3 linked regions of the Homo sapiens genome follow. The protein of the gene in region 3 interacts with the protein of the main gene of each other region in a biochemical or structural test. Each region holds a gene or a part of one and is shown on either strand. Other genes may lie near its edges.

Region 1 (7,033 bases), on a different chromosome or scaffold from region 3:
CTAGAGAAGAATGAAAAGGCACTAGTTTCCATTTCTTCTCTACTGCACAGGTAAGCAAAGAGGGGAAGTCAGCTGGCTGAGTATGGGCCTCTAGGTACAGAACTGTGCTTCTGCGAAGTTGGCAGTTAGACAAGTCAGGGGCATAGGAAGAAGTAACAAACCAGATGGCTTAAGAACAAAACAGGGAAAGAGAAATGATAAATTTACACACAAGCATATATTTTATATAGACAGCTGAAGACTCCAGCTATGTACTCTATCATTCAAAATTAATTTTGAAAGAGAAAAAGAATTTCCTGCCAAAAATAACCCTAAAGTTATTTAGGGTCTTTGAAACTTAAGGCTATCTCATTTTTCCGAGGTGAACCATACTTTGTTTTCAATTACAGAAATAAATCACAAAATAAACTAGGGGACAATGAAGACACAGACCACAGACCCGGCTTCTGTCTAATGGTGGAATTCAGAACATGTGCTTGTGTATATGGGAGGGGGTGGTGGAAAGGAGTGGTAGGTGGCAGAGGCAAATGTTCTGACTCTTTTTATCACTTTCTTCACATCAAAAATCTGGGCCAAGGCTAATATCCAATCACATTCTTCGGAATGTGGGAAAATTAGGGGCCAATTTTTCCCCATTCTTGAATAGAAAGAATAAAACAAGCATAATTTCTAAACAAAGGATTCCTAACTGGAAATTTGAAGACATTATCTGCCCCTCTCTCTTTTACACCCACACTTCCTGCTTTGTGGCAGATACCCTACCTATCTTCTGGGAAAGCTCACAAAATTCCTACGGACCTTTTCTAAAAGATTGCTGGTCTGATAATCTCTCCAAGAAGGGAAAGCATCGCATGGTGGCTCTGCAAGGCCACTGAAGGACCATGACTCTAATTCATCCAATAGTCCTATAAAAGCAAGATGTAGGTCTCTAAACTCGAAACTATAAAAAGGAATAATTTTATATAGGAGTAATTTTAGGTAACATTAGCATTAAGCAAAAAGGATAAAAGCAAACTACAATTCAAAGAGAGAAGAAATGCTAATTAAAAAGAAGAGTTTGCAACACATTTAAATTGTACCTGTTCTACAGTTGCTCTGTCTGCCTTATCTTTGATGCGATACCTAACCAAAAACAAAAACGTATAGTTGACACATTCAAAATTCAGTGAGAAGCCAAAATCTTCTAAATGTAGATAATTTCATGAAAATTCCTAAGTAGGTAGTTTCTCTAAATAACAGATTTTATGATATGATTGTAGATTTTTCATTACTCAGTGAAACTTTCTTCATTTCCCCTGAATACCAAAATTCAATTCTGTATTTTGGCAAAAGGAGTATGTATACAGTAAAAAGAAAAATCTATTCCTATTTCAGAAGCATCAAAGAGCCGCCAGGGTAAAGTGAACTATGCTGAAAAAGAGAAAACATTGAGTATATTTGTACTGTCCTTCACATCTTTAATGATTCTGTTAGCACACAATTAAAGTCTTGTCTTCTTTTTTTTTTTTAAAGAGACAGCATCTTACTATGTTGCCCAGGCTAGGCATAGACTCCTGGGCTCAAGTATTCCTCCTGCCCCAGCCTCCACATAGAGTTAGTCATTTACAAGGCTTTCTGTTTAGAGGCATTTTCTAAGAAGATACAAGTTTTTTTGTTTTTGTTTTTGTTTGTTTGTTTTGAGATGGAGTCTCGCTCTGTCGCCCAGGCTGGAGTGCAGTGGCACGATCTCGGCTCACTGCAAGCTCTGCCTCCCGGGTTCACGCCATTCTCCTGCCTCAGCCTCCCGAGTAGCTGGGACTACAGGCGCCCGCCGCCAAGCCCGGCTAATTTTTTTGTATTTTTAGTAGAGACAGGATTTCACCTTGTTAGCCAAGATGGTCTCGATCTCCTGACCTTGTGATCCGCCCGCCTCTGCCTCCCAAAGTGCTGGGATTACAGGCGTGAGCCACTGCACCTGGCAGTTTTGTTTTTTAAAATCGTTTCAAGACAGTATTCAAATGCAGACTCTGATTTGCTTCTGCTTATACACTGAGTGACTCCACCTAGCACACTAACCTAAACTAATAAAGGTTTAAACACAAAGATTCAAACAGATACCAGTGAAATAACAAATAACTATGGTGTATCTCAAAAAGCTGATACCTCTTGGACATAGCAATAAATTGGAAGAAAGCTGGCTTTTACGTTCAATTCTCACAGTTAGTTGTATGATCTTAGTGTCGTTTTCTATAATATAGTGATAATACTTTAGAGTTATTAGCATATAAGAGAAGTTATTCAGATCTTAAACAATTGGCTTTGAGAACAGAAGTGTAAACAGAAACAGTTCTCAGTTATATCATTAGTTCATAGTCTTCCCTTAAATTTTTAAAAATACTTCATGGGAAAGAATAATTCTTAATAAATTTTAAGGGAACATTTTTGCACATTTTAGTTTAAACTGAAATCTACAAACACTGTTCCCCTCATAAGAACACATTTGTAAATTTCATGAGATTACACTTTTACCATGTATTTCTTAAAATTCATTAATTTTTATTTTATGTATTTATTTTTGAGATGGAGTCTCGCTCTGTGGCCCAGGCTGGAGTGCAGTGGCACGATCTTGGCTCACTGCAACCTCCACCTCCCAGGTTCAAGAGATTCTCACACCTCAGCCTCCTGAGTAGCTGGGATTACAGGCGTGCACCACCATGTCTGGCTAATTTTTGTATTTTTTGTACAGACATGGTTTCACCATGTTGGCCAGGCTGGTCTCAAACTCCTGGCCTCAAGTGATCCCCACAGCTCGGCCTTCTGAAGTGATGGGATTACAGGCATGAGCCACCACACCCAGCCAAGATTCATTAATATTTTTAATTCACAAAGGCATAGGTTATCCTAATTTAAGCTAAGGAAAACACACACACACACACACACACACACACCAAAATAATGATTGGTTTAAGTATACAAATGAACATCCTCTGTAAAAGAATTATGATCAAGGTGCTGCTTAATCTAGATTAGTCCTTATCACCCATGCATATTATTAAAATATTACTTACATATCTGCTTCCTTTTGTCTAGACTTTTCGGTGACTTTATTTATGACGGAATCAGTAACATTTAGCTTATCTAAAATACAAGAAACCCACAATGTAAACAATATGTAAGACGAAAAGACATTAACAGAGTTGCTGAACAGGGTATTTCTCCCCTCTTCCTTCTCTTCTACACTTTCTAAATGTTTTATTGTAAATAGAATACAGTTTAGTAATGAAAACAATGTAATGTTTTTAAAAGTAGGCACTAAACTGCGTTTCCTTCGTAAGTGTCACTTTCATCACTACAGCTATAATATTTGAGCCACAGAATTCTAGATGCAGAAATTCTTCAAAGATAATAATTTGCATAATAAATTTCAGACACTTGCTAGTACTCCACATGACTAATAAAACTGCCTGAATTTCAAGTTTAATTCTAAAAACTTGTTTCACTTCAAGTTATAAGTCTATGATAGGCAAAGAAGGCCCTAAAATACTTATATTAATTTAGCATGTATTGACAGCTTATATGAGAAACACTGTGTTAGGTTTAGAGTGAAGATCCACAAGAATAGAAAGATGGCCTTCCTTCCTTCCCTCCATCCCTCTTACATTTTCTATGAGATGATGATTCAAATTAACATTCTGATGCCTGGCATCGAACAGGTCACTAAATAATTAACACCTACACAAAAAACCTCTAGTGAAACCGTATGTAACTATATTCAATACTCTAGTATTTTCAACATCCTACTATGAGATAACCCTATTACAAAATCTAAAACAGGCCAGGCGCAGTGGCTCACACCTGTAATCCCAACATTTTGGGAGGCTGAGGCGGACAGATCACTTGAGCTCAGGAGTTCAAAACCAGCCTGGTCAACATGGAGAAACCCCGTCTCTACAGAAAATAAAAATTGGCCGGGTGTGGTGGTGTGCACCTGTGGTCCTAGCTACTTGGGAGGCTAAGGTGGGAGGATCGTCTGAACCCCAGAAATCAGGGTTGGAGTGAGCCAAGATCGTGCCACTGCACTCTAGCCTGGGTGACAGAGTGAGACCCTGTCTCAAAAAAAAAAAAAACCTAAAACCGAACAGACAATACTTAAATGGGTTTTTGTAACATTACATTCCTATGGCAAGTGGGAAAACAACCAAAATAGCATAAGCTTAAGTCTTTTCCTAAAGTTATGTTTTTAAATTACGATTTTTATTTTCTCTAAACATTATTGAGTTAGTAACACTTGAATACATTCATTCCTTTTTTCTTTTTTTTTTTTTTTGAGATGGAATTTTGCCCTTATTGTCCAGGTTGGAGTGCAACGGCACAATCTCGGCTCATCACAACCTCCACCTCCCAGGTTCAAGGGATTCTCCTGCCTCAGCCTCCCAAGTAGCTGGGATTACAGGCATGTGCCACCACGCCCAGCTAATTTTGTATTTTTAGTAGAGATAGGGTTTCACTATGTTGGTCAGGCTGGTCTCAAACTCCTGACCTCAGGTGATCCACCCACTTCAGCCTCCCAAAGTGCCGGGATTACAGGCGTGAGCCACCACGGCCAGCCTTCATTTCTTGATCTAATAAAATTATACAACACTCCATGGTTTTTGAAAAATGTCCTCTTAGCCCAGTGATGTATTTTGTAAACTCACCTAAATTAATTTTATTCTCAAATTTCCGTAAGACCTTGTCTGCTGGAGTAGACATTTTGGCTGAACTGCTGTCGGAGGTCTGTCGATTTGCCTAGAAGGGAATTCCAGAGTCTAAGGCACTAGCTGTAAAAACAAACCTAAGATTCATCATCACATTTCCTTAGTTCATACTTAGCTATTAAAGCATCAATACTTAGAGGAGTATCTTAAGGAAAGGTAAGAGTCAATCAAATTGGCTCAAAAAATTTTTTAAAGAGCATTTGAAACAGAAGGTTAAAATTACTGACTAAAAGAGTCTGCATAATCCGTTTTTTTAACTTCTCTATGATTCCTCTTATTATAAGTAACAGATTAAAATTAAGTGTAGTTTTCTAATTTGACTGGTTTATAGACTTAAAATTTGAGAATGTTCATTTACCCCCAAAGTATATAATAAAGAGCTAAGACCAGCATTAAGCTGGTTCAGAATTTCATTTTGGGCCCAATGTCTCAAGAGAGGGAAATATTAAGTACGAGGCTCAGCACTTACGCTGGTGCTATGCGCAAACTTCAATAATGAAATTGCTCAAAGCCTCATTATGAATCAGTGAAGGAGTCACCAGAACAAGACGATATAAAAATGCAAAATTTGTCGTCACTCACAATGTGGTTATTTTAAAATGCACACATTCTGGTCCATGATATAGCCATTTTATTGTTGTTGTTTTTTACAGACAGAGTCTCGCTCTGTTGCCCAGGCTGGAGTGCAGTGGTGTGATCTTGGCTCACTGCAACCTCCGCCTCCTGGGTTCAGGCGATTCTCCAGCCTCAGCCTCCCGAGTAGCTGGGATTACAGGCACCCACCACCACGCCCGGCTAATTTTTGTGTTTTTAGTAGAGACAGGGTTTCGCCATGTTGGCCAGGCTGGTCTCAAACTCCTGATCTCAGGTGATCCGCCCAGCTCGGCCTCCCAAAGTGCTGGGATTAGAGGCAGGAGCCACTGCGCCCAGCCGATATAGCCATTTTAATGGTCAAAGGAAGACTGCTGGATTAACCTTTATGCTCCAGGAAGATGTACCATGTTAATCCTATGGCCTTACAAACTCCTAACACACTTGGTACTTCCAGTATGAGCAGCAGCTGTACGTGGTTTGGTAACTTTTTTTTGTACATGGTAAATAATCACAAACATATTCCTATCTCATTAATACAGTCTTCCATTACAACATCTTTTATGGCTGTATAATGCCTCATTGTGCGAATCAGTCCCATAGCAGGTTTAATCCCGTTCAAGGTTGCTTCCAATGTTCCTCTACCATAAACAATCCTGGAGGATCATTCTTGTAACTAAGTCTTGGCACACTCACAGAATCGCTAAGTCAAAGTATTTTGAAGCTTTTAAAGTTTTTATCACATACCAGCTTATCCTACAAGTAAGTGCACCTATTTACTTGACCATCAATGATATGTTTTGTCTTTAACAGTTTCACAGGTGAAAAAACGGCATCTCTACAAATTTAATCTGCATTTCTTTAATTACCAATGAGGCTGAACTTTTTTACCATGTTTCTTAACTATTTGTAGTAAACTGCCAATCCATGCCCTTTCCCATGAAGATTTTAAGCTCACAATCTTTATAACTCTTTTTAAATTTACAGATTCTGGAAAGAATCCACACCCAGGAAATTATCAGAAATACAGAAAGGATGAAAAGTGAAAATCAGTAAAGGCTGAGGCTACAGGACAATATAACATGAAGAAAATCTTTTAGTTATTCAATTTCAGAATCACAAAACAGCCTTTTAAAAAAGTAGACATAAGCAGACTACATAAAGATGTGCAGGATCCTTTATAAAATACCTGTGGGTTGCTTCCTCCATTCCAGACATAACCCTTGGCGAGTTTTCCAACTCCTTCATCCCAGTCCCAGTCATCATCATCATCGTCATAACCCTCCTCCTCCTCATCTTCTATTTCACCTTCACCATTCTCATTCACATTGTCTTGAAGGTCTTCAAACAGAATGTCATCCTTCTCTTTGACTGTCTTCAAGTCTCTGTTTTCACTAGAAATAACAATGTTTTATTATTTCATAACAATATTTCCACATACCCTAACTGATCTCACATATTTATGATGTAAGATATTAAAATATTGATAAATCTAAAAGATTATATATTTATATAAAATACACCTTCCGATAAGCTCCATCTCCTTAAAACCATGTTCTCCTGTTTTCCAGTTCTGTTGCAGTTGTTTGCTCATTCTCCATGCCCAAAGCCTACTATTCAAGAAGCACATCAAGTTAAATCTGCTTCTGCCTTGTTAAAGTTAGAAATTATATTGTTATCTTCTCTGCTGAATAAACAACTCAGAC
Region 2 (7,033 bases), on a different chromosome or scaffold from region 3:
CTCGATGCCTGCTTCCCAGCCAGGAGTGACGTGGACCCCAAACACGGGCCCTGCCCTGGCCTCTGAGATTCCAGCTCTGCATCCTGCACCCCAGGGGCATGAGGCCCTCAGGGCAGGGCGCCAGGACAGGGGATTGAGGGAGCTGGGTTGGGAGGGGACTGAGGGGACTGAGGGTTGGGAGGGGCCGTGGGGCAAGGACCCAATGCTTGGGTTCCACAAGGACAGCTCTGCCAGCCCAAGCCATATGTTCTCCCCACTAGGTGGGAAGGGGAGAAGTGAGAGACAGAGCTCCAGGCTGGGAGGGAGAGGCTGTCCACCCTCCAGCCTCCCAGGCCACTGGTGCTCGCCTGCTGACCCCTCAAGCCCAAAGCACATCAGAGTCCAAGAGTGGTGGTCAGTGGGGCAGACCTGCCTGCCGGGACCAAGATGCAGTTCCCAGAGACACGGCCCGCCGCCCAGGCACGCCAAACCCCAGATCCTGGGACAGGCGCACCGAGCCCCAGATCTCAGGGTCTCACACCTCCTGCAATACAGGGGCCAGGGCTCCCTAGAGAAACAGCAGGACTGGCAGGAGATGTCCAAGATGCGCCTGGGTTACCTGTTGGTGCTCGGCAGTGGGAAAGAGCTAAAAATACGACCCCCACGTCAATGGGGCCAAAGGGAGCTGGGGGCAACTGCAAGAACTCCCAGCGGCCAATGCTGGAACAGTTTCGGCACCAAAATCAAGTAACGCTGTGTGTAAACTAAACATCCATCTGTCCAGACCAACACCGGCGCATGAGCGACACATACACGGGGAGAAGAGACAAAGCTCCTTTCCCAGCAGGATTCCAAACAGTCTCTGTCACTGCTGTGTCTTCCAGGAGGTAGAGCACAACCCCCACCCCGAGGCCAGGGCTGCAGAGCGACTTCCTCCCAAAGCGGACAGCATGGAGGGGGGGTCTCAACCCAGCAGGGGCCAGCTCAGCCTCACGGTGAGTCAGGTGACAGGGTGTGCCCAATACAGTGGAGTGACAGTGGCACTTCGCCTCTGGGGGCTTCCTCCCCAAACCCAGTCCCTTCCTGTACCCATTAGAAAAACATCAGACAGATCTTCAGCTGACAGGCAGCTTCCTCAGAACAGTCAAGGTCATTAAAACCAAGAGGAGTCTGAGAAACTCACAGCCAAGACGGGCCGAGGGAGCCATGACATCTGAATGTCACGTGGGATCCTGTACGGATCCTGAGGCAGAAAGAGTCCGTTAGGGAAAAATGAAGGAAACCTAAGGTATGGGCTTTAGTTAACTATTAATTACTTAACGCTCACTATTTCTCTGTTGATACTGGTTCCTTCCATGTGACGAACGTACCACACTCATGTCAGAGCAACAGCATGCGGGGACGGGGGAGCTGCATGGAGCTCTTGGCACCATCTTTGCCATTTTTCTACGAATCTAAAGCCTGTCTAAAATAGGGCTGATTCCAAGAGCTCCCCCAGGGTCAGGAGGCACTGCTGCCTGAGCCACATCTGAGGAGGGACGGGGACTCCCAGCGACAGGAGGCTCTCAGGGCTGAGAGCAGATGTGCCTTCCCGGCCCAGAGCCCCGCAGGGAGGCAGGGGCACATCCTCCTCGGCCTGGGGGCTGGGTGTTGATACAGCCCTCTCCCTTCTGGGAGCGCCAAGCACATTTTTCAGATGAGAAAACTGAAAACAGGGAAAGGATACTTGACCAGGGTCACATTTTTGTCCAAGAACCAGGAATGTTCGGTCATCACATCGCCACTCCGGGCGGCCGCTCCTATTCTGGACCCAGTGCTCTGGTGCCTCCGCCGCGGGATGCCAGCCTGGAGCTGCCTGGGCCTGCAGCGCGTGACCTGCCACCCTCGAGCCTGGGCAGCTGGGCCATGAAAGGATGGACCCCAGGTTTGACACTGCACACAGCCCCTGCTTTCTGCCCAGATGGAAAGTTAGTAGGAGAAAGAAAATTATTTTTTAAACAGCAAAATTAGGCCAGGCGCGGTGGCTCACGCCTGTAATCCCAGCACTTTGGGAGGCCGAGGCGGCTGGATCACGAGGTCAGGAGATCTAGACCATCCTGGCTAACACGGTGAAACCCCGTCTCCGCTAAAAATACAAAAAATTAGCCAGGTATGGTGGCGGGCGCCTGTAGTCCCACCTACTTGGGAGGCTGAGGCAGGAGAATGGTGTGAACCCAGGAGGCGGAGCTTGCAGTGAGCCAAGATCGTGCCACTGCACTCCAGCCTGGGGGACAGAGCAAGGCTCCGTCTCCAAAAAAAAAAAAAAAAAGCACAGAGATGACACAAATGAATGAGGAAGGCCCAGAAGCTGAGACAGAACAGAGTGGTCCGGCCTCTTTCCAGCCCTGAAAGCTGGGCTGTGGCTACACAGCCCCCGCCTGAGCCCAGAGCCTCAGCACCCACACCTGGGTGGTGCCTTCCAGCCACAGGGGAAGGGCAGAGGCTGCTCTCCTTTCACGTGCATGTGACCCAGGCACAAAGAGCCTGAAAGCCAAGCTCCTGGGAGACGGGCGCCACAGGCAGCAGCTTATCAGCAGGCTGCATCCCCTGCGAGGTGACAGGGAGGGTCATGCAGCCGCTGCCCTCCTGGTTGAGCCGTCCTGGGGTGCACACACCACAGCAGGCTGGCACATGGAACACTGTCCACATTGTCAGGGCACATGGAACCTGCCACTGGCAAATGGCTCAATGGGTGGTGGGGTTGCGTCACCGGGTGGTGGTATCTTCATTGGGTGGCGGGGTTGCGTCACTGGGGGTTGTGTCACTGGGGGTTGCGTCACCGGGTGGCAGGGTTGTGTCACTGGGGGTTGCGTCACTGGGTGGCGGGGTTGTGTCACTGGGTGATGGGGTTCTGGAGGGAGCACCTCAGTGCGTCAGGAGGAGGGCTCATGCTCGGGACCAGGCCTTGCCCAGGGCAGGGGGGTGGAGGGGCCCCACTGGGGTCCAGGCCCAGGCCCAGGCCCGCTGGCTTGGCCACTCATGCACTAAGGGCCCAGAACCCACCACCCCAGCTCTCAGCAGGGGGCGGGGGAGGGGCGCTGTGATGCCAGCAGCCAAGGGTGGGGCAGGGGCCTGCCTCTTTCCTGAAGAACAAACCACATCCAGACCCGTGGTGAGGCTGGGAGGCATGTGCTTCCCACACAGGTAGGTACAGCTCGGGAGAGCAACCGCACTCACATCAGGCCCCGTCCCTCCTGGGGAGGACGCACGAGGCAGCTCCCGCCCCATGAGGACAAGCTCTGGGATGTGTGTCCCAGGGCCCTGCATGAGTGGGTCCCACACGCTCACCACACCCGACAGCAGGCCTGAGCCGTCCTCACGGGCCACCCTCTGTGCGACAGAGTGAGGGGCAGGACAGGGTGTGCAGTGTTAGGTGGGCATCAGGGAAAGGTCCACTCAGGAGGGGAGACTGCAGCCCCTGTCAGAGGCACGAGAAGAGCATGGTGGATGCTCAGGGGCCTCAGCTGAGCACAGCAGGGTCTCTGTGGGGTGGAGGCTGTGGCAGAACAGTGAGTTGGGGGGACCCCCAGTGGGACCCGGCAGGAGCTGTGGTCAATGTCGGGGGAGGGGCACATGAGGGAGCTCGGCATCAGCAGAGCCACCAGGCTCCTCACAAGGGTGGGCCTGGGTGCCCCCGAAACGTCCCCCACAGCCCCCACGGGCCTCACGAGCTCACGCCCTGAGAACAGGGTACCTGTGCGGAGCACCGGCTGGAGCCCCAGCTCTCGGCCTCTGCAGGCTCAGGAAGCACCGTGGCCCGTGGCTCCCACTCATATCCCTCCACCTCTGGACCCGGGTCAGCCCCACAGCTCGGAAAGGGCCACCCCTCCCGGACACTCACCTGCGGGCTTGGCGCCGGCTGCCAGCCTCGAGCCCCAGCAGCTCGGGCAGGGCATCCCTGAGAGGGTGCAGGTCCCCCACCACCACCGTGGCCCTCCGCCTCCGCTCCTCCCTGTGCTTCTGCTCAGCCAGTTTTATGGCTTCGATTTCTAAGGAAGGAGAAACGACGTTAGAGGCAAACAAGAGGCAGAGGAGGAGCCCAGGCCCAGAGCCTCTGGCCCACGAGAGACCTGGCAGGGTGCCCGGCCCTGCTGCCTCTCTCCTTCCCGCTGTCACCCCCATTCCGCCCCTGGGAACCTGCAGGGCGGGCAGGCTTGAGTTATTTTCTTCCCCTTAATGACAGAGCTGCGCTTTTTAATCGCAGGGCTGACAATGAGGTGGAACTGCAGCCACTGAGGATTTCTCCTGCAAAGGGACGCTGGCAACTGTGGCCGGAGCACGCGTAGGGGAGTGCACACAGCCACCGAGCAGAGGGGACAGAGGGGAATGAGGAAAAGGGGCCCTCAACTTAAGATGGCAAGTCACAGCCTGGGAGGCTCAGCTTTGTTCCCAGGAGGGAGAGGGCTCCCCAGAGGGAAGGGGAGAAGCCCCAGGACAGACCTGAGGGCTTGGGGCCATGGGGGGTGGCAGGTAGGGCTGAGGCCTCCACGCTAGAGAAGGGATTTGGGCAGGGTCTGGACAGAAGGGGTATGGCCTTGGGATTTGATTTAATTTAAAAATGTATTTATCTCAAAACTGCTAAGAGAACACATGCTCGGACATGCTGCTCACTGCACGTGGCTCCTGGAGGCTGTGGAGCGCGGACGGCCTGCTCTCTTCAGGGCAACCCACCGGGACAGGCCTGCAGCTCAAACACTGCCAGCTCGTGACACAGGCCCGGGCATGGCAGACCTGTGCCCCCTGGGGGGAATGCCCAGGTTTCCAGAGGTGACAACAGCCAGCTCCTCTCCAATCCCGCTGTCTGGGACAGCGGCGCCCCTCTCAGCCCCCAGGGCAGGTGGCTCGCAGAACAAGGTGTGAAGGGCCCACCCTGACCAACCCGAAATCAGGGGATGCCACCCTGCCCTGGGTCCCTGTAGCAGGGTGTGTTTACCTGGCTCCAAATCACTGACAAGAACCTGGGACAAAGACCACCCTTCCTCTGGGTCCTCAGCCCCCAGTGCAGGTTGAGAGCTTGGAAGGTGTACACCAGCTCTCCACAGCCTTGGGAATCACGGGGGTTTATAAGGTAAGAATCCAGCGCTTACTCCACCCTGCCTGGACTGTGGTAGACACGTTACTCGGCACCTCATTAAAAGAGAGCCAGGGCACCCTGGAAGCTGGGGTAGGGAGGGGCGGGCCAGGCCAGATGGCTCCTTCACAGGCTGCAGACCCAGGCCAGGAAAAGCAAAGCAGAGGCATGTGGTTCCCGTGAGGACAGACACAAAGGCCCGCACCTCAGCAAGCCAAAGCCAGAAGCCTTTCAAAAGAAGGATACCTTGTGCCCAAGCAGGGTGAGCCCCAGGCATGCAAGGATGGTTCTCCCGGGAAATGCCTCAGGGTGACCCTCCACAGTGGCCACTCAAGAGGCAAGAAAGCCTATGGTCACCACCACCAGTGTGCAGAGGATTCTGCACAATTCACTGCCCACGCATGAGAAAAATTACAATGAAACCACAAACGGAAGGAAGCTCCTTGACAGATGAGCTGCTAGAAACCCACAGTGAGTATCACATTTCAGGGCAAAACATTAGACACTCAATGATAAATCCGAGCAAGGAAAAGATGACCACAATATCGACAATCCCACCCGGCCCACTCAATTCTGAGGGGGAGGGAGGGAGCGAGGCAGTGGCGGGGCGGGACCCACGGCCTGGGAACACTCAGCACTGCTCTCATCTGCAGCACCTAGGGGAGGTCCCACACAAACACCAGCTTCCAAGCAGCCAGGAGAACCAACGGGAGAGTGCAGTTCTTCTCTGTCAGTTACTCCGGAAAAATCGGATGCTGCCTCAGCTAAAATTTCAACGGGATTTTTAGTCAAACCTGTGCAGCTAATTCTAAACTTTATGTTTTAAAAACAACTAAATGCATAAGAATAGTAAAAACATTTTTTACAAAGAACAAGCAACAAGAAAGTAGGGCTATCGGATATTAAAGCAAATTATAAAATAACAGAAATTAACAGCGTGGCAAAAGTGCTGATGAACACTCAGTGGACGCAGGGCAGACCAGGCAAAGTGTGAGCATGACACGTGAGGTTAGATAAACTGGGGTCCTCCTGGGGAAAGAGTCAGAGTCCCTCTCACACTGTTCCTAAAAATCAGTATGTATGAATTAAATACTAAAAACAAAGAGGAATCAAAGGCCAAAAAATACAGCAGGAGCCACTCGACTGGATTAGAAATCAAGGAAATGTTGCACCTCATAGACTGGCAAATTTTTAAATGTTTCATAATATCGAGTGTTCGAGGACGGAGGGAGCTGATGGGTGGGTGTGAACTGGCCCAGCCGCCTTGGAGGACAACTGAGGGTTGGGAAAGTCAAGTGGGACATGTGTGTGGTTCCAACTACCCACCCTCCCGCCCACAGGGCATGGGGAGCCACTGTCCACGGCACGGCTGGGGCACAGGCTGTGTGGTGGAGCATAGAGGCGCTACCTGGGCACTGGGGAGGTATGTGGACAAAACAAAGCAAAGCAAGGGATGGAGAGTGACCGGGGGAGGCCTCCAGGAGTGGGAGGGCCCTGCAACGGGAGGAACAGCAAGGACAAACTTTGCAAGCTTGTCCTCATAAAGGCAAGGTGGGGTGGCGCGTGCAGATCCACAGGGGAAATTTCAACACATATTGGGGAAAAAAAGCAAATTGAGGGAAAAAATCCACACATACAGAAAACATGCATTTCTAAAGATCCTAAGGAATCTACAAAATGACTACCAGACCTAATGCATGATATTAGTAAATTCATAGGATACAAGATTAGTATTTTAAAAAACCAATTGTATTTTAACATACTAGCAGAGAGCTGAGAAAAAACTGCATTTATGACAGCATAAAAAACTATAAAATACTTAGCAATAAGCTTATTATAAGATGTAAGATCTCTACACTAAAACTGAATAACATTGATGATGAAATTTAAATGGTGAGATATACTATGTTCATGAATTTGAAGATCTGCTTTGCTAAGATGGTA
Region 3 (4,595 bases):
TTCAAGCGATTCTCCTGTCTCAGCCTCCTGAGTAGCTGGGATTACAGGCATGAGCCACCACACCCCGCTAATTTTTTTGTATTTTTTTTAGTAGAGACAGGGTTTCACCATGTTGGTCAGGCTGGTCTTGAACTCCTGACCTTGCGATCCACCCGCCTTGGCCTCCCAAAGTGTTGGGATTACAGGCGTGAGCCACTGCGCCCGGCCTATTTATTATTTCTAATATTTTTATTTTTTTTAAGAGATGGGGTCTTGCTGTGTTGGCCAGGTTGGTCTGGAACTCCTGGGCTCAAGCAGTCCTTACTTTGGCCTCCCAAAGTGCTAGGATTACAGGTGTGAGCCACCGCACCCAGCCAACTCTCTTCTTAATCCATGACAATTTTACAGCACAAAAGCAGTTACAAGTGACACCATCATAGTCTTTTCCCTGAATTCCATGTCATCAAGCTACTATCCATACCAAGGGGCTACCCTTTTCTCAAATTACCAGGACAATCAGATGTGATCCAGGCAATGGAAGGCTAGTATCAGACATATAATTTATTTATAAAGTGCTTGAAGATATTTTCATTACATCCACAAAAGGGAAGGCTCTTACTTGGGCAGAAATGTATTACTTATTGTGCCTATTTTCTTTTTTTTTTTGAGACGGAGTCTCACTCTGTCACCCAGGCTGGAGTGCAGTGGCACGATCTTGGCTCACTGCAAGCTCCACCTCCCAGGTTCACGCCATTCTCCTGCCTCTGCCTCCCGAGTAGCTGGGACTACAGGTGCCTGCCACCATGCCTGGCTAGTTTTTTTTTGTTTTTTTTTTTTGTATTTTTAGTAGAGACGGGGTTTCACCGTGTTAGCCAGGATGGTCTTGATCTCCCTACCTCGTGATCCGCCCACCTCGGCCTCCCAAAGTGCTGGGATTACAGGCGTGAGCCACTGCGCCCCACCCCATTTTGGTGTGATCTCAGCTCACTGCAACCTACCCCTCCCAAGTTCAAGTGATTCTCCTACCTCAGCCTCTTGAGTAGCTGGGATTACAGGGGTCTGCCACCACGCCTGGCTGATTTTCCTATTTTTAGTTGACACTGCATTTCACCAGGTTGGCCAGGCTGGTCTTGAACTCCTGACCTCAGCTGATCCACCCGCCTCGGGCTCCCAAAGTGTTGGGATTACAGGTGTGAGCCACCACACCAGGCCCATATTTTCTTTTAGACATGCAGGCAATGTTGTGGTTTGTTGTTAAGATGTCTTAATATTCCTCTTCCCAGGCTCTGAAACCTAGTGTGAAGGTATATGCTGCTGAACCCTCAAATGCAGATGACTGCTACCAGTCCAAGCTGAAGGGGAAACTGATGCCCAATCTTTATCCTCCAGAAACCATAGCAGATGGTGTCAAATCCAGCATTGGCTTGAACACCTGGCCTATTATCAGGGACCTTGTGGATGATATCTTCACTGTCACAGAGGATGAAATTAAGGTGAGGCTCCAGCAAGAAAAGAAATAGCAAAGCATGGTGTAACTTCTTAGGCAGAAGAAACTTCCCTTAGGAGTAGCAAGTGACCCACGGGAACCTGACTAGGTAACTTCATGACATGGGAGGGTACCCTAGATGTATTAATGACAACCCTCTTGACAGAAGCAGAGTCAGAATTAAAGAAAAGCTTTGGGAAGCGTGTGTACACAGTGATAAGAAAATTCAAACTGGACACGTATTCTCATCTGAACTTTATAGGTAAACCAACTAGACTCCCCTTTCACTAATTCCTACTCCCTTCCATATCAACAGTGTGCAACCCAGCTGGTGTGGGAGAGGATGAAACTACTCATTGAACCTACAGCTGGTGTTGGAGTGGCTGCTGTGCTGTCTCAACATTTTCAAACTGTTTCCCCAGAAGTAAAGAACATTTGTATTGTGCTCAGTGGTGGAAATGTAGACTTAACCTCCTCCATAACTTGGGTGAAGCAGGCTGAAAGGCCAGCTTCTTATCAGTCTGTTTCTGTTTAATTTACAGAAAAGGAAATGGTGGGAATTCAGTGTCTTTAGATACTGAAGACATTTTGTTTCCTAGTATTGTCAACTCTTAGTTATCAGATTCTTAATGGAGAGTGGCTATTTCATTAAGATTTAATAGTTTTTTTTGGACTAAGTAGTGGAAAAACTTTTATACTTAACTGAGACATTTTGTCAAGGCTAAAAAAAAGTCTTGCAAAATGGGGCAGTGGACTGACAGGCTGACATAGAAAATAAACTTTGCCCAATCACAACTTGTGCCTCCCATCCCTGGAGTACTGACTGGCACCGGTAAGACAGAATCTCTTTGAATCCATTACTCCATGCCCCCTTGAGGCACTGTTGAAGAAATCTCACTTTTCAGCCAGGGTACTGGTTCTGGTACATATGGATCATAAGTCCATTTGGGGAAGACTCGTTTATACAGGTTCATCAGTACTGTGTCTTGAGATTTTAGCTTCCCATCAAAGCTGCATTTCATGTGGCCATGGGTACCTAGAAAGACATCAGAACAAGTCGGTCAAATTAAAAGTAGAAAATTTTAAAGCAATGACTTCCAACCCAACAGTCATTTAGCAACACTGCAGAAATGCAGACATGGTCTCAAATCCCGTGTTTCCTTACCTAAAGGTTCCTTGATATGTCCTCTCCGGCCCCACTTCGTTCTCAGTTCCACTGGTTTAAACCACAGCACATCCTCTTAGAATCAAACACATTAAAGACCAAGATGAAACATTTACCCACAAAATGTAAACCCAACCTTTATACCACAAAGGCAATCAGATCCCATCCTCCTCCTTCATACCCACCTCTGTTGAAGAACATGTAACGTACTACTGCCATCTTAGTAAAAATTTTGAAAGGATGACCACTCAGAACAACTCTCTTGATGACCATTCTGTCTGGATCTACTGACATAAGATGGCCTGTAGCAATGAGGCTGTGCATTCCTAAAGGACAAAAGCAAAGAAGCTATTTAGGAATTTACAGGCCAAAGTCTTCATTTATTGCCCAGTCCATTTAAAGACCCATGCAAGAGCCTGGTTTGTCATCCCTGCCCTAGCCCAATCTGAGGCTAAGATTGGTAAACTGTAAGCCCACACTTAACCTTGTCAATAGGTTCTTGAAAACTTGTACTTCAAGAGAAATGATGTATAACAAAACCATACTTTTTCTCATCAGTTGTTACAAGGAAAGGATGTTGAACAAAAGGCAGTTATTTGAGGACTGGCTATACACTGTTTCACGTAAAAGTTGGAGTTTTCATTGTTCTATTAACAATGTTAAATGAAGACTTACTGTATTTTGAAAACCATCATTACCTTCTCCATACCATTTGGCTCCCAAATTTAAATAAACAAGAGAAAACGGTGTTCATCTATTAAGGACCTGCAGGGTCTGTTCATCTCTGTGGCTCAACTTACCATTGCTTTTTTGCTTGAAAAGCAGCACAGATGCAGGAGGAAAAGTGATTGGCGCATAGACTGTCGCCACCAGGGCCATGTCAGCAGTCAGGAATCTCTGCAATTTATGTTTGTCCGCTGCCATAAGGGTTAAAAAATGAAAAGCAAAACCATTTTGAGAAACCAGAGGTGATAGAGGCCTGTGAAAAGCTGTATTAGTGCAACTCTTAAACCTATGGCAGCTTCTACTTCTCTAAACCACCAGTTCTCAAAAATTTTCGCTGCCTCAATGCACCTAAAAGATACGATCTAGTCCTATCAGTAACTTTTTTTTTTTCTTTTTTTTTGAGTTTGAGTATCGTTCCTGTCACCCAGGCTGGAATGCAATGGTGTGATCTCAGCTGACTGCAACCTCTGCCTCCCGGGTTCAAGCAGTTCTCCTGCCTCAGCCTCCTGAGTAGCTGGGATTACAGGCACATGCCACCACGCCCGGCTAATTTTTGTATTTTTAGTAGAGACCGGGTTTCACCATGTTGGCCAGGCTGGTCTCGAACTCCTCACCTTGTGATCCACCCACCTCAATCTCCCAAAGTGCTGGGATTACAGGCGTGAGCCACCGCGCCAGGCTGTATCAGTAACTTTTTATTTATTTATTTATTTTGAGATGGTGTCTCGCTCTTGTTGCCCAGGCTGGAGTACAATGGTGCCATCTCTGCTCACTGCAACCTCCACCTCCCAGGTTCAAGTGATTCTTCTGCCTCAGGCTCCCGAATAGCTGGAATTGCAGGTGCCTGATCAGTAACTTTTTTATCTGGAGTCAGAATCTTGGAGCCTAGACTGTATTTGATGTTCTACCTTCAAGGTAGCCCTCACCTCCTTTTTAAAATACTAAACTTAAAGGAAAATAAAATATTTTAAGGCAAAGAAAAATTAATCTCACTTAGAGATTGTGATTCTCACAATTGGTGAGAATAAAAATTATCCAAAACACCATTAATACTGCTTTCTTCATATTCCTCCTGCCACTGCTGAGAGTGAGTGAACTAGGACGATGTTCAGAAGCCCCCAAGTTAGTGGGCAACATATCTTCCTGCTCCTACTGTGTAGGAGACAATCATTTCTGCTGCAAGTCCCGTCCAGTAGTCTCTCAGTATCTCAGGACCCCTACCTCTGCTTTACCCAACTA

The links. The genes of interacting proteins can lie anywhere in the genome.
Region 1: the proteins of TSR1 (region 3) and RIOK1 are reported together in a solved structure, tested with the Homo sapiens proteins (one study listed by BioGRID).
Region 2: the proteins of TSR1 (region 3) and SLX9 are reported together in a solved structure, tested with the Homo sapiens proteins (one study listed by BioGRID).

The regions. Positions count from the first base shown.
Region 1 is NC_000006.12:7,392,787-7,399,819, reverse strand, and holds part of RIOK1 (serine/threonine-protein kinase RIO1), read right to left. Parts: exon of another isoform or gene 6,958-7,033; coding exon of another isoform or gene 6,851-6,957; intron 6,722-6,850; coding exon 6,517-6,721; intron 4,800-6,516; exon of another isoform or gene 4,768-4,799; coding exon 4,677-4,767; intron 3,118-4,676; coding exon 3,048-3,117; intron 1,123-3,047; coding exon 1,080-1,122; intron 1-1,079. UniProt on the Homo sapiens protein: Involved in the final steps of cytoplasmic maturation of the 40S ribosomal subunit. Involved in processing of 18S-E pre-rRNA to the mature 18S rRNA. Required for the recycling of NOB1 and PNO1 from the late 40S precursor.
Region 2 is NC_000021.9:44,964,008-44,971,040, reverse strand, and holds part of SLX9 (ribosome biogenesis protein SLX9 homolog), read right to left. Parts: intron 4,008-7,033; coding exon 3,860-4,007; intron 1-3,859. UniProt on the Homo sapiens protein: May be involved in ribosome biogenesis.
Region 3 is NC_000017.11:2,321,874-2,326,468, forward strand, and holds the end of TSR1 (pre-rRNA-processing protein TSR1 homolog), read right to left. Parts: intron 3,548-4,595; coding exon 3,431-3,547; intron 3,392-3,430; exon of another isoform or gene 2,957-3,391; coding exon 2,816-2,956; exon of another isoform or gene 2,706-2,815; coding exon 2,631-2,705; exon of another isoform or gene 2,502-2,630; coding exon 2,323-2,501; 3' UTR 2,001-2,322; coding exon of another isoform or gene 1,782-2,000; 3' UTR 1,473-1,781; coding exon of another isoform or gene 1,263-1,472; 3' UTR 523-1,262; downstream 1-522. Other genes in the region: SRR (serine racemase), read left to right, coding at 1,263-1,472, 1,782-2,000. UniProt on the Homo sapiens protein: Required during maturation of the 40S ribosomal subunit in the nucleolus.